Regions from separate parts of the Homo sapiens genome. Here region 1 is linked to region 2. Evidence: fine-mapped expression QTL. Tissue or cell type: neutrophils. Region 2 holds a variant in brackets; the other region holds the start of a gene. All regions are shown on one strand. Distances are from middle to middle.

What was found. PIP is the estimated chance that this variant, and not a neighbour inherited with it, causes the effect.
Region 1: it holds the start of GNA15-DT, and the variant in region 2 is fine-mapped to the expression of GNA15-DT in neutrophils (BLUEPRINT, PIP 0.95).

What each region holds. Positions count from the first base shown.
Region 1 is chr19:3,152,563-3,157,757 of GRCh38, reverse strand. GNA15-DT (GNA15 divergent transcript) reads left to right here and starts at 2,583. Exons shown (of 4, transcript NR_110670.1): 1 at 2,583-2,740. GNA15 (G protein subunit alpha 15) reads right to left here. Exons shown (of 7, transcript NM_002068.4): 5 at 1,806-1,935; 6 at 1-30. RefSeq lists enhancers at 2,263-2,352, 2,393-2,722, 2,010-2,967.
Region 2 is chr19:3,552,631-3,557,630 of GRCh38, reverse strand. MFSD12 (major facilitator superfamily domain containing 12) reads left to right here and starts at 45. Exons shown (of 10, transcript NM_174983.5): 1 at 45-525. The coding sequence starts at 228. RefSeq lists silencers at 1-159, 200-269, 450-619. The variant C/T (reference allele first, on the strand shown) is at 2,163.

The DNA.
Region 1 (5,195 bases), 400 kb after region 2:
AAACAATGCGAGGCTCTCCTTCATGCGGTTCTGTGTTGGGGGCAGAAGCAGGTTAGTGCTTCAACCAGCCAGGTGGGACAGGAAACCCTCCCATCGCGGAGACGGGGCTGTTGGCTCCAGGGGCATGGGCTCACCCCTATCTGCCTGGCTGGGGCTGAGGCGGGTGTGCCCGTGTTTCCATATGGACAGCTGCCTGGGTGTGCCTGACATGGTTTTGTGCCTGTGCTGGTTGGAAGTGTGTCCTCCCGAAATTCATGTCCCCCCAGAGCTTCAGAGTGTGACCTTATCTGGAGAGAGATTCTTGAACTCCTGGCCTCCCAGCGTGCTGGGGTTATAGGCATGAACCACTGCACCTGGCCTGGAGATAGGGTCTTTGAAGAGGTCGTTAAGGTGAGGCAATACTAGAATACGGTGGCCCTCAAGTCCGTGACTGCTGTCCTCATAAGAAGAGGGAGACCTGGCCGGGCGCGGCAGCTCACGGCTGTAATCCTAGCACTTTGGGAGGCCAAGGCGGGCAGATCACCTGAGGCCAGGAGTTGGAGACCAGCCTGGCTAACATGGTGAAACCCCGTTTCTACTAAAAATACAAAAAATTAGCCGGGCATGATGGCAGGTGCCTGTAAACCCAGCTACTCGGGAGGCTGAGGCAGGAAAATCGCTTGAACCCGGGAGGCGGAGGTTGCAGTGAGCTGAGATCGCGCCACTGCACTCTAACCTGGGCGACAAAAGCGAGACTCCATCTCAAAAAAAAAAGTACAATAAGGTCTCAAATGCCTTGTGTTATGGGGTACATCATATTTCCCCAAAATTCATACGTTCAAGACCTAACCCCCTAGAACCTCAGTTTGTGACCTTCTTTGGAAACAGGGCCATCACACGAGGAATTAACCCAGATGAGGTCGTACTGGAGTAGGGTGGGCCCTGATCCTAGACGACTGGTGTACTTATTAAAAGAGGCTATTGGCTGGGCACAGTGGCTCACGCCTGTAATCCCAGCACTTTGGGAGGCCGAGGCGGGCGGATCACGAGGTCAGGAGATTGAGACCATCCTGGCTAACATGGTGAAACCCCCTCTCTTCTAAGAATACAAAAAAAAAATTAGCCGAGCGTGGTGGCGGGTGCCTGTAATCCCACCTACTCCGGAGGCTGAGGCAGGAGAATGGTGTGAACCCGGGAGGCGGAGTTTCCAGTGAGCCGAGATCGCGCCACTGCACTCCAGCCTGTGCGTGTGCGTGCATGTGTGTGTGCACGCATGTGTGTGCCTGTGTGCCTGTGTGTGCGTGTGTGTGCCTGTGTGTGCGTGTGCATGTGTGTACTGTGTGTGTGCATGTGTGTGTTCATGTGTGTGCGCATGTGTACATATGCGTGTATTGTGCACGTGAGTGCATGCAAGTGTGCATGTGTGTGGTGCATGTGTGTTCGTGTGCATGTGTTGTGCATGTGCACTGCGTGTGTACATGTGTCCCGTGTGTGCACGTGTGTATGTGCATGTATTATGCACGTGTCTGTGCGTGTTTGTGTGCATGCATTGTGTATGTGCGTGTGTGCACTGTAGTGTGTGTGTGTGTGTGTGTGTGTGTGTGTGTGTGTGTGTCTGGGGTCCTGACCAAACAAATGCTGTAGGTCTGTGTCTTGGGTTGCTGCAATCTGACCACAAAAGGCTGAAGGGTCAAGTTCATAGCCATGCTGGGCACACACAGGCCCGTTCAAGAGCAGGGATCCCTCCCTTTCTGCACCAGAGCTTCCTGCTCAGGTGAGGGTCCCTGGGCCAACAAGTGGGCAGGGCGAGGGAGGCGGTGGCGCACCTCCTGGTTGTTCTCCTCCAGGCACTGGTCGTATTCACTCAGTGAGGCCAGGTAGATGAGGGCGATCACGTTCTCGAAACAATGGATCCATTTCTTACGCTCTGACTTCTGGCCCCCGACGTCCACGATCCTACAGGGAACCGAGGTGCCCCCTTTCAGAGCTCAGGAGCCTGCTCCGTGACACCCCCAACCCCCATCACGTCTGGGATATGCCAAGATCCATAATAGCGACAGCAAGAATAGGTGCTAGCCTCTCGTGGATTTGCCATGTCATTCCCGCGAGGCAAGGATGAGTCTTACGCCCATTTTACAGATGAGAAGCCTGAGATCCAGGGAGGAGCGGGGACTTTCCCAAGCTTCTACTGTGCTGGGCTGCCTGCTTTCTACCCCCATATTAGAGGGGAGCAGGTTGGACAGATCTGAGATGTGCCCTGGTGCTGGCTGGGCGACCCGGCGGAGGAAATTGCCAAACATCTCCAAAACTCAGTTTTCCCATCTGTGCTATGGGGCTCCTGTGCTCTGGCTGGCCATGGGCATGTCCAGTGGCCACACAGATGGGAATGAGGGCTGTTCCCAGAGCACACGTCCTCCCCTCCATCTGTGACTCAGCCCCACGCACCGTAACAAAAGCCTGAACCCTGCCCCCACCTTCCTGTTCTCTCTCTTCTGAGAAATGTGGGTCGCTGATAACCATCTGTGCGTCATTTCCCTGGGGATGCAACCGTTACTCAGGAAGTCCCAGAACAGAGGCTTTGGACGGGCCCGGCCCAGGGCCTCAAGCAAGAAGGGACTTGCCCCATTGCACAGGAGGGGAAACCGGGACTGATGATGAAGCAGTTAGGCTGCAGCTGCTGGATGTGTCTCCTGATCCCTGAGACCCACTCCTCCCATGCATCCTCAGAGTCCCTCAAACCCCACATCCAGAGCCAGACAGGGTAAGCAGCCGTCGAGAGGGGGCTCTGGAGACTGAGACGGGAGTGGGATCAGCAACTGACCAGTTGGGAACTGTGGGCATCACCTCTCATCTCGGGTCTCAGTGTCCTCTGAGCCCTCACTCCATTCATTCGTCTCACTCCTGGGCCACACCTAAAAATCACTTCCTTGGCCCAGACTTCCCCATGATTTCCCAGCCTCTACCTTCACTCCTAAACTTTTATCCACCCACCCACCCCATTCATCGATTTATTCACTCATCCATCCACCCATCCACCCACCCACTCATCCATCCACCCATCCAGCCATTCACTCATCCATCCATCTATCCATCTACCCATCTATCCATCCATCCATCATCCATCCACCCACCCATCCATCCACCCATCCAGCCATTCACTCATCCATCCATCTATCCATCTACCCATCTATCCATCCATCCATCATCCATCCACCTGTCCACCCATTTACGAAATCCACCCACCGACCCACCCATCCATCTCTCCATTTACTCATCCATCCATCCATCCACCCATCTGTCCACCCATTACCCAGCTACCCATCCATCCATCTACCCATCTATCCACTCACTCATCCACCCATGTACCCATCCACCCACCCTCCCACCCATCCACTCATCCATTCATCCACTCACCCATCCACCCATTCATCCATTCATCCGTCACCCACCACCCATCTACCCATTCATTCATCCATCCATCCACTCATCCACCCATCCATCCACCCATTCATCCATCCATCCATCACCCACCACCCATCTACCCATTCATTCATCCATCCATCCACTCATCCACCCATCCATCCACCCATTCATCCATCCATCCATCCATCCATCCCACCCATCCATCCATCTATCCATCCACCCATCCATCTATTCATTCACTCATCCATCCATCTATCCGTCTATCCATCTACCCATCTATTCATCCATCCATCATCCACCTGCCTGTCCACCCATTTACTCAATCCACCCATCCATCCATCGCTTCATCTACTCATCTATCCATCCACCCATCTGTTCACCCATTATCCATCTACTCATACATCCATCTACCCATCTATCCACTCACTCGTCCACCCATCTACCCATCCACCCACCCACACCCCCATCCACTCATCCATTCATCCATCCATTCACCCACTCATCCATCCATCCTTCACTCACCCATTCACCCATTTATTCATTCATTCATCCATCACCTGCCACCCATCTACCCATTCATTCATCCATCCATCCACTCATCCACCCATCCATCCATGCATTCACCCACCCATTCATCCATCCATTCATCCATCCCACCCACCCATCCATCTATCCACTCATCCATCCATCCTTCACTCACCAATCCACCCACCCATCCATTCACCCATCACCCTTCCACCCATCTACCCATTAATTCATCCATCCACTCATTCACCCATCCATCCACCCATTCATCCACCCATCTATCCATCTATCCACTCATCCACCCACTCATCCATTCATGTATCACCCATCCACCCATCTAACCATCCATCCATCCATCCATCCACTCATCCCTCTTTCAATCCATCCATCTATCCATCCATTCATCCATCCACCCACTCATCCATCTATCCATTGATTCATCCACTCATCCATCCTGCCACTCCATCCATCCACTCATCTATCCCTCAACTTATCCATCCATCTATTCATCTATCCATCCACCCATTCATCCACCCATCCATTCCCTTCCATCTTTCCTTTTTTTTTTTTTTTAAAGATTCCCAGACCAAGTATCTCTCCCATAGAAGTCATCCTTGGGTACTAACACTACTATTGTGTCCCAGAGCTGGTTCCTTCTCGTGGGTTCTCGGTCTCGCTGACTTCAAGAATGAAGCCGCAGACCTTCGCAGTAAGTGTTACAGCTCTTAAAGGTGGTGTGGACCCAAAGAGTGAGCAGCAGCAAGATTTATTGTGAAGAGCGAAAGAACAAAGCTTCCACAGCGTGGAAGGGGACCCGAGCGGGTTGCCCCCATTCCATCTTTCCAACCATCCACCCACATTTACCAACTTCTACTCTGACCTTTAGCTATTCACTAAAGAAGCAGAAGAATCAAACTCAGCCCCTAACCTTGTGAGGCTCTCCATCTTGTAGAGGAGACCCACAGAAAACAGATAAATTATGAACCTTCCTAGTAAGGACTATTGAAGAGGCCAAAACAATAGGTTTGGGGGATTTAGGGAAAGGAAGGCCAAATAGGGGTAGGTCAAACACAATCGCTGTCTCTGGGCATGACTTTGCACCCCTGCTCAGCTCCCCGCCATCAGCCCATGGAAACAGATCTTGCTAAGGTCACCAGTGACCCTCTAACTGCCAATCCCAGAGTCATTCTTCTCACTGTATTCTTGACCTTTCCTTTCCTGACCTTTGACATTGGCCATTGCTCTGCTGGGTTAGGGTTAGGGTTAGG
Region 2 (5,000 bases):
CTGCCCCGCCCGGCGCAGTCGCCCGGCTCTGGGGCCCGGCGGCTGCAGAGTCGAGCGTGGGGCGGACGCGGCGGACGTGGGTGAGGGCGCGGCCGTAAGAGAGCGGGACGCGGGGTGCCCGGCGCGTGGTGGGGGTCCCCGGCGCCTGCCCCCACGGCACCCAAGAAGGCCTGGCCAGGGTACCCTCCGCGGAGCCCGGGGGTGGGGGGCGCGGGCCCGGCGCCGCGATGGGCCCGGGACCCCCAGCGGCCGGAGCGGCGCCGTCCCCGCGGCCGCTGTCCCTGGTGGCGCGGCTGAGCTACGCCGTGGGCCACTTCCTCAACGACCTGTGCGCGTCCATGTGGTTCACCTACCTGCTGCTCTACCTGCACTCGGTGCGCGCCTACAGCTCCCGCGGCGCGGGGCTGCTGCTGCTGCTGGGCCAGGTGGCCGACGGGCTGTGCACACCGCTCGTGGGCTACGAGGCCGACCGCGCCGCCAGCTGCTGCGCCCGCTACGGCCCGCGCAAGGCCTGGCACCTGGTCGGTAAGCGTCCCGGCCCCGCCACCTGTCGGGCAGCCCCTCCGAGACTCCGCGACCCGGGCGCCTCCTCCCTCTGACTCACCACCCGCCGTCTGCCTGCCTCAGGATCGGAGTCTCCCCTCGGTCTGTCTGTCCCGTGGCCCGAGCTTCCCTGCACTGTCTGTCCACGGCCTTAACCTCCCCTATGTATCTGTCTGCCCTATGAGCTGAGTTTTCACCCCTCTGTCTGTCCCCTGGCCCGAACCTCCCCTGTCTGTCTGTCTGTGCCCATGGCCTGAGCTTCCTCCATCAGTCCCACCACCCAGCCCCCTCTCTCTGCCTGCCTGGGACCTAAGTCTCCCCTGTTTGTCTGCCCCATGAGCTGAGTTTTCACCCCTCTGGCTGTTCCGTGGCCTGAGCCTCCCCCGTCTGTCTGACTACCCAGTGGCCCCTCTGTGGTGTCACTCCTGAGCCTCCCCTGCCTGTCCCACCATCCAGCATCCCCCGTCTTTCTGCCCCATGGCCTGAGCCTCCCCCGTCTGACTGTGCTGTGCCTCCCCCATCTGTCTGACTGTGCAGTGCCTCCCCCATCTGTCCAACTGTGCAGGGCTTCTCTATCTGCCTGAGCCATGAGCCTCCCCCATCTGTCTGTTTAACTGCCCCGTATCCCCTCTGTCTGTCCCTTGGTCCAGCCTCCCCTGTCTGCCTCAGAGCTGCTGTCTGACCTGCGGGGCCCTCACCATCTGACTACATGACTTTCTAGTGGGAATGCCTTTGTTTGTCTGAGCCCCCGGGCCACCCTGAACCCTCTGGAGGGTTGGTGGTGACTGCTCAGCGCCTCCTTTGTCAGTCTGTCTAGCCTGAGCTCGTCTATTAGGGTGACCAACTGGGACAGCTATGGCTGAGGGACAGTCAGGCCCCCTAGAGCCTCCTCTCTCTCTGTGTGTTCTGCCAGGGCAACCTGGTGCGTCAGCAGTTTGAGGGTGCTGCTCCGGGAGTTGAGAGTTGGGAGCCGCCTGGGTGGGACTGGAGGGTCAGGGGTCTCTGCCCTGTTCTTGCATTGCCTCTATCTGTCTGGCCAGGGTCAGGGACCCCCTAGGTCTGGGGGAGCTGCCCTGATTAGAGAGGGCTGTTGGGAGGGCAGGAGGCTGGCGTCATGGGCTGGGTCACCCTGCCCCAGTGCCCATCGATAAGACTGCAGGGCTGCCTCCCAGCGGCCCTCCTCTCCCCTCCCGGACCCTGGGCCTGAAGATTAGCCGGCCTCCTTCCCTGCTCTTCTTGCCCTCACAGAAGTGCCGGCTGCGTCCTGGCATTTGGGACACATGTGGCATTTCAGCAGGCAGGGCCAGGAATCCTGCTCAGTTCTTGGAATTCCAGGTGGCAGGAGGGGCAGGCGGGTGCCTCCTCACCCTTGGGAACAATGACTGGGATGGGTGGTTGGACCCAGGATCTGGGTGATGACATTTTTTGCAAGAGGCAGTGGATCTCCAGTGGTCTGAGGGTGGCAGGCTCCGCAGCAGGCACAGCTTGGGGACTGGAGTTTCATGTTTCCTATGTCCAGGCTATTCCTGGGGTACCTGAGGCGGCGGCAGACAGGGAGGGGACCGGCTGTCCCTTCCTTTGTGGTTACGTTGGGATTGGTTGCTGAGCGGAGCCCAGGG[C/T]CCCAAATGCCTCTTTGATCATAATAGTTGGATAAGCTCTTTGACAGTCGCGTAAGATAATTTCTGGGCGGGCCGGGCACGGTGGCTCACCCCTGTCATCCCAGCACTTTGGGAGGCCTCCTCACCTGAGGTCAGGAGTTTGAGACCAACCTGGCCAACATGGCAAAACCCCGTCTCTACTAAAGTACAAAAATTAGCCGAGCGTGGTGGCGCACGCCTGTAATCCCAGCTACTTGGGAGGCTGAGGTGGGAGAATCGTTTGAACCCGGGAGGCAGAGGCTGTAGTCAGCCAAGATCGCGCCACTGCACTCCAGACACAGCGAGAGTCTGTCTAAAAAAACAAAAAACAACAACAACAAACCAAAACAAGAAAACAAACAGAAACAGCAACCGAAGGCTTTATGTTTTTCCAAAGCAGACCTCAGGGAACCAGGTGGTCCAACCGGACACCAAGGCGTCCACCGTCACCCCTCTTCCCCGCCTCGGGGAGGGCACCTGCCCTGGGAGCTGAGAGGTGGGGGCCACCTGGGTGGGCCTGGAGGGTCAGGAGGGTCTGTTGGGAGCAGAAGCCCAGGCAGCCGCTCTTGATGCCTGAGCAGGTGACTTGAGTGAAGGTTACCCTGGCAATGGCACCCACTTCTGTATTTCACCCCCAAGTCTGGGGCTGGTGGCTAAGGACTCACTTTGCCCTTTAACAAGTCCTGGGGAGCTCCCCCACAATCCCGAGACGACCCTCAGAATCAGACACAAACACTCCTGTGAGTGGGCAGATGGCACAAATGGGCTTCAGAAGGAAGGACATTAACTTTGAGGTTTTGACGGATGGGTAGCAGTGTGTGGAGGGGCGCATTCCAAGTAGCAGAAACAGCTGTGGAAAAGGTAGGAACAGTCCTCACTTTGAAGCTGCGGAAGCAGGAAGTGGTTCAGAATAGACGGAGCTTTTGCTGGTGCCACACATGAACTCTATCCTCACAGCAGCCTGTGAGGCAGGAACTTTCTTTCTTTTTTTTTTTTTTTTGTTTTGTTGTTGTTGAGACAGAGTCTCACTCTGTCGCTCAGGCTGGAGTGCAGTAGCGGGATCTCGGCTCACTGCAACCTTCGCCTCCTGAGTTCAAAGGATTCTCGTGCGTCAGCCTCCTGAGTAGCTGGGATTACAGGCACGTGCCACCAAAGCCGGCTAATTTTTAAATTTTTAGTAGAGGCAAGGTTTCACCATATTGTCCAGGCTGGGCTTGAACCGCTGACCTCAAGTGATCTGCCTGTCTCAGCCCCCCACAGTGCTGGGATTACAGGTGTGAGCAACCACGCCTGGCCATGGGCAGGAACTTTCACTACCCTTCTTTCTCTTCTTTTTTTAATTTTTTATTTATTTTTATTTTTTATTTTTGAGACGGAGTCTTGCTTTGTCACCCGGGCTGGAAGGCAGTGGCGTGATCTCAGCTCACTGCAACCTCAACCTCCTGGGTTTAAGTGATTCTCCTGCCTCAGCCTCCCGAGTAGCTGGGACTACAGGCTCGTGCCACCATGCCCGGCTAATTTTTGTATTTTTAGTAGAGACAGGGTTTCACCATGTTGGTCAGGCTGGTCTCGAACTCCTGACCTCAGGTGATCCATCCGCTGCAGCCTCCCAAAGTGCTGGGATTACAAGCATGAGCCACCGCACCCAGCCTCTTCTTTTCTTTTCCTTTCTTTCTCTGTTTCATTTCTTTTCATTGTTTTTTTTTTTTTTTTTTTTTTTTTGAGAGATGGAGTCTCACTGCAAGCTCTGCCTCCCGGATTCACACCATTCTCCTGCCTCAGCCTCTCGAGTAGCTGGGACTACAGGCGCCCGCCGCCACGCCCGGCTAATTTTTTTTGCATTTTTAGTAGAGACAGGGTTTCATCATGTTAGCCAGGATGGTCTCGATCTCCTGACCTCATGATCCACCCGCCTCGGTCTCCCAAAGTGCTGGGATTACAGGCGTGAGCCACCGCGCCCGGCCTTTTTTTTTTTTTCTTGACAGGGTCTCGCTCTGTCGCCCAGGCTGGAGCGCAGTGGCACGATCACGACTCACTGCAGCCTCGACCTCCTGGGTTCAAGCAGTCCTCCCACCTCAGCCTCCCAAAGTGCTGGGATTGATTACATGATCCACCACTCCTGGCCACTATCCCTGTTTTCTGAAAACTGAGGCCTAGAGAGGCACAGTCACTTGCCCGAGGTCCCCAGGCCAGGCAGCCTGGCCCCAACAATGGTTAACCCAGACTGGCCAGCAGGAACAGGGAGTCCAGCCAGGAAGGGACCTTCTCACTGGAGTCCACAGTTCATGCTCTGCCCCCGGATGACCTCCCCAAGGACCCCAGGAATCTGCGCAAACCCTCCCAGGCCCTAGTTCCAGAGAAACCAGCAGGAGAGGCTGGTTTTGGTTTCACTTCCCAATTCCAGTTCTCTGGGGGCGGGCCCAGGGTCTGGGGATGAGGTCACCTCCGGAGGGAGGAAGGAGGTCCAGCCACCAGGCTTGGTACAGGGGCCCTTCCAGGTGCCCCAGGCTGGGAGGAGAGGAGTGCAGGGCTGCAGGGAAGGAGCCTGGCTCCGACTCACTCTAGGGGCCTCAATTTTCCCATCTGGAAAATGAGGATAATGACACCCACGCTTACAGGCTGTGTCAGGGCCACTATTGTTACTCACTCAGAAGATACTGAAGTAACAGCCGGTATGGTGGCTCAAGTCTGTAATCCGAGCACTTTGGGAGGCCGAGGCAGGAGGATCACTTGAGGCTAGGAGTTCGACTTCAGCCTGGCCAACGTGGTGAAACCCCATCCCTACCAAAAATACAAACATTAGCTGGATGTGGTGGGATG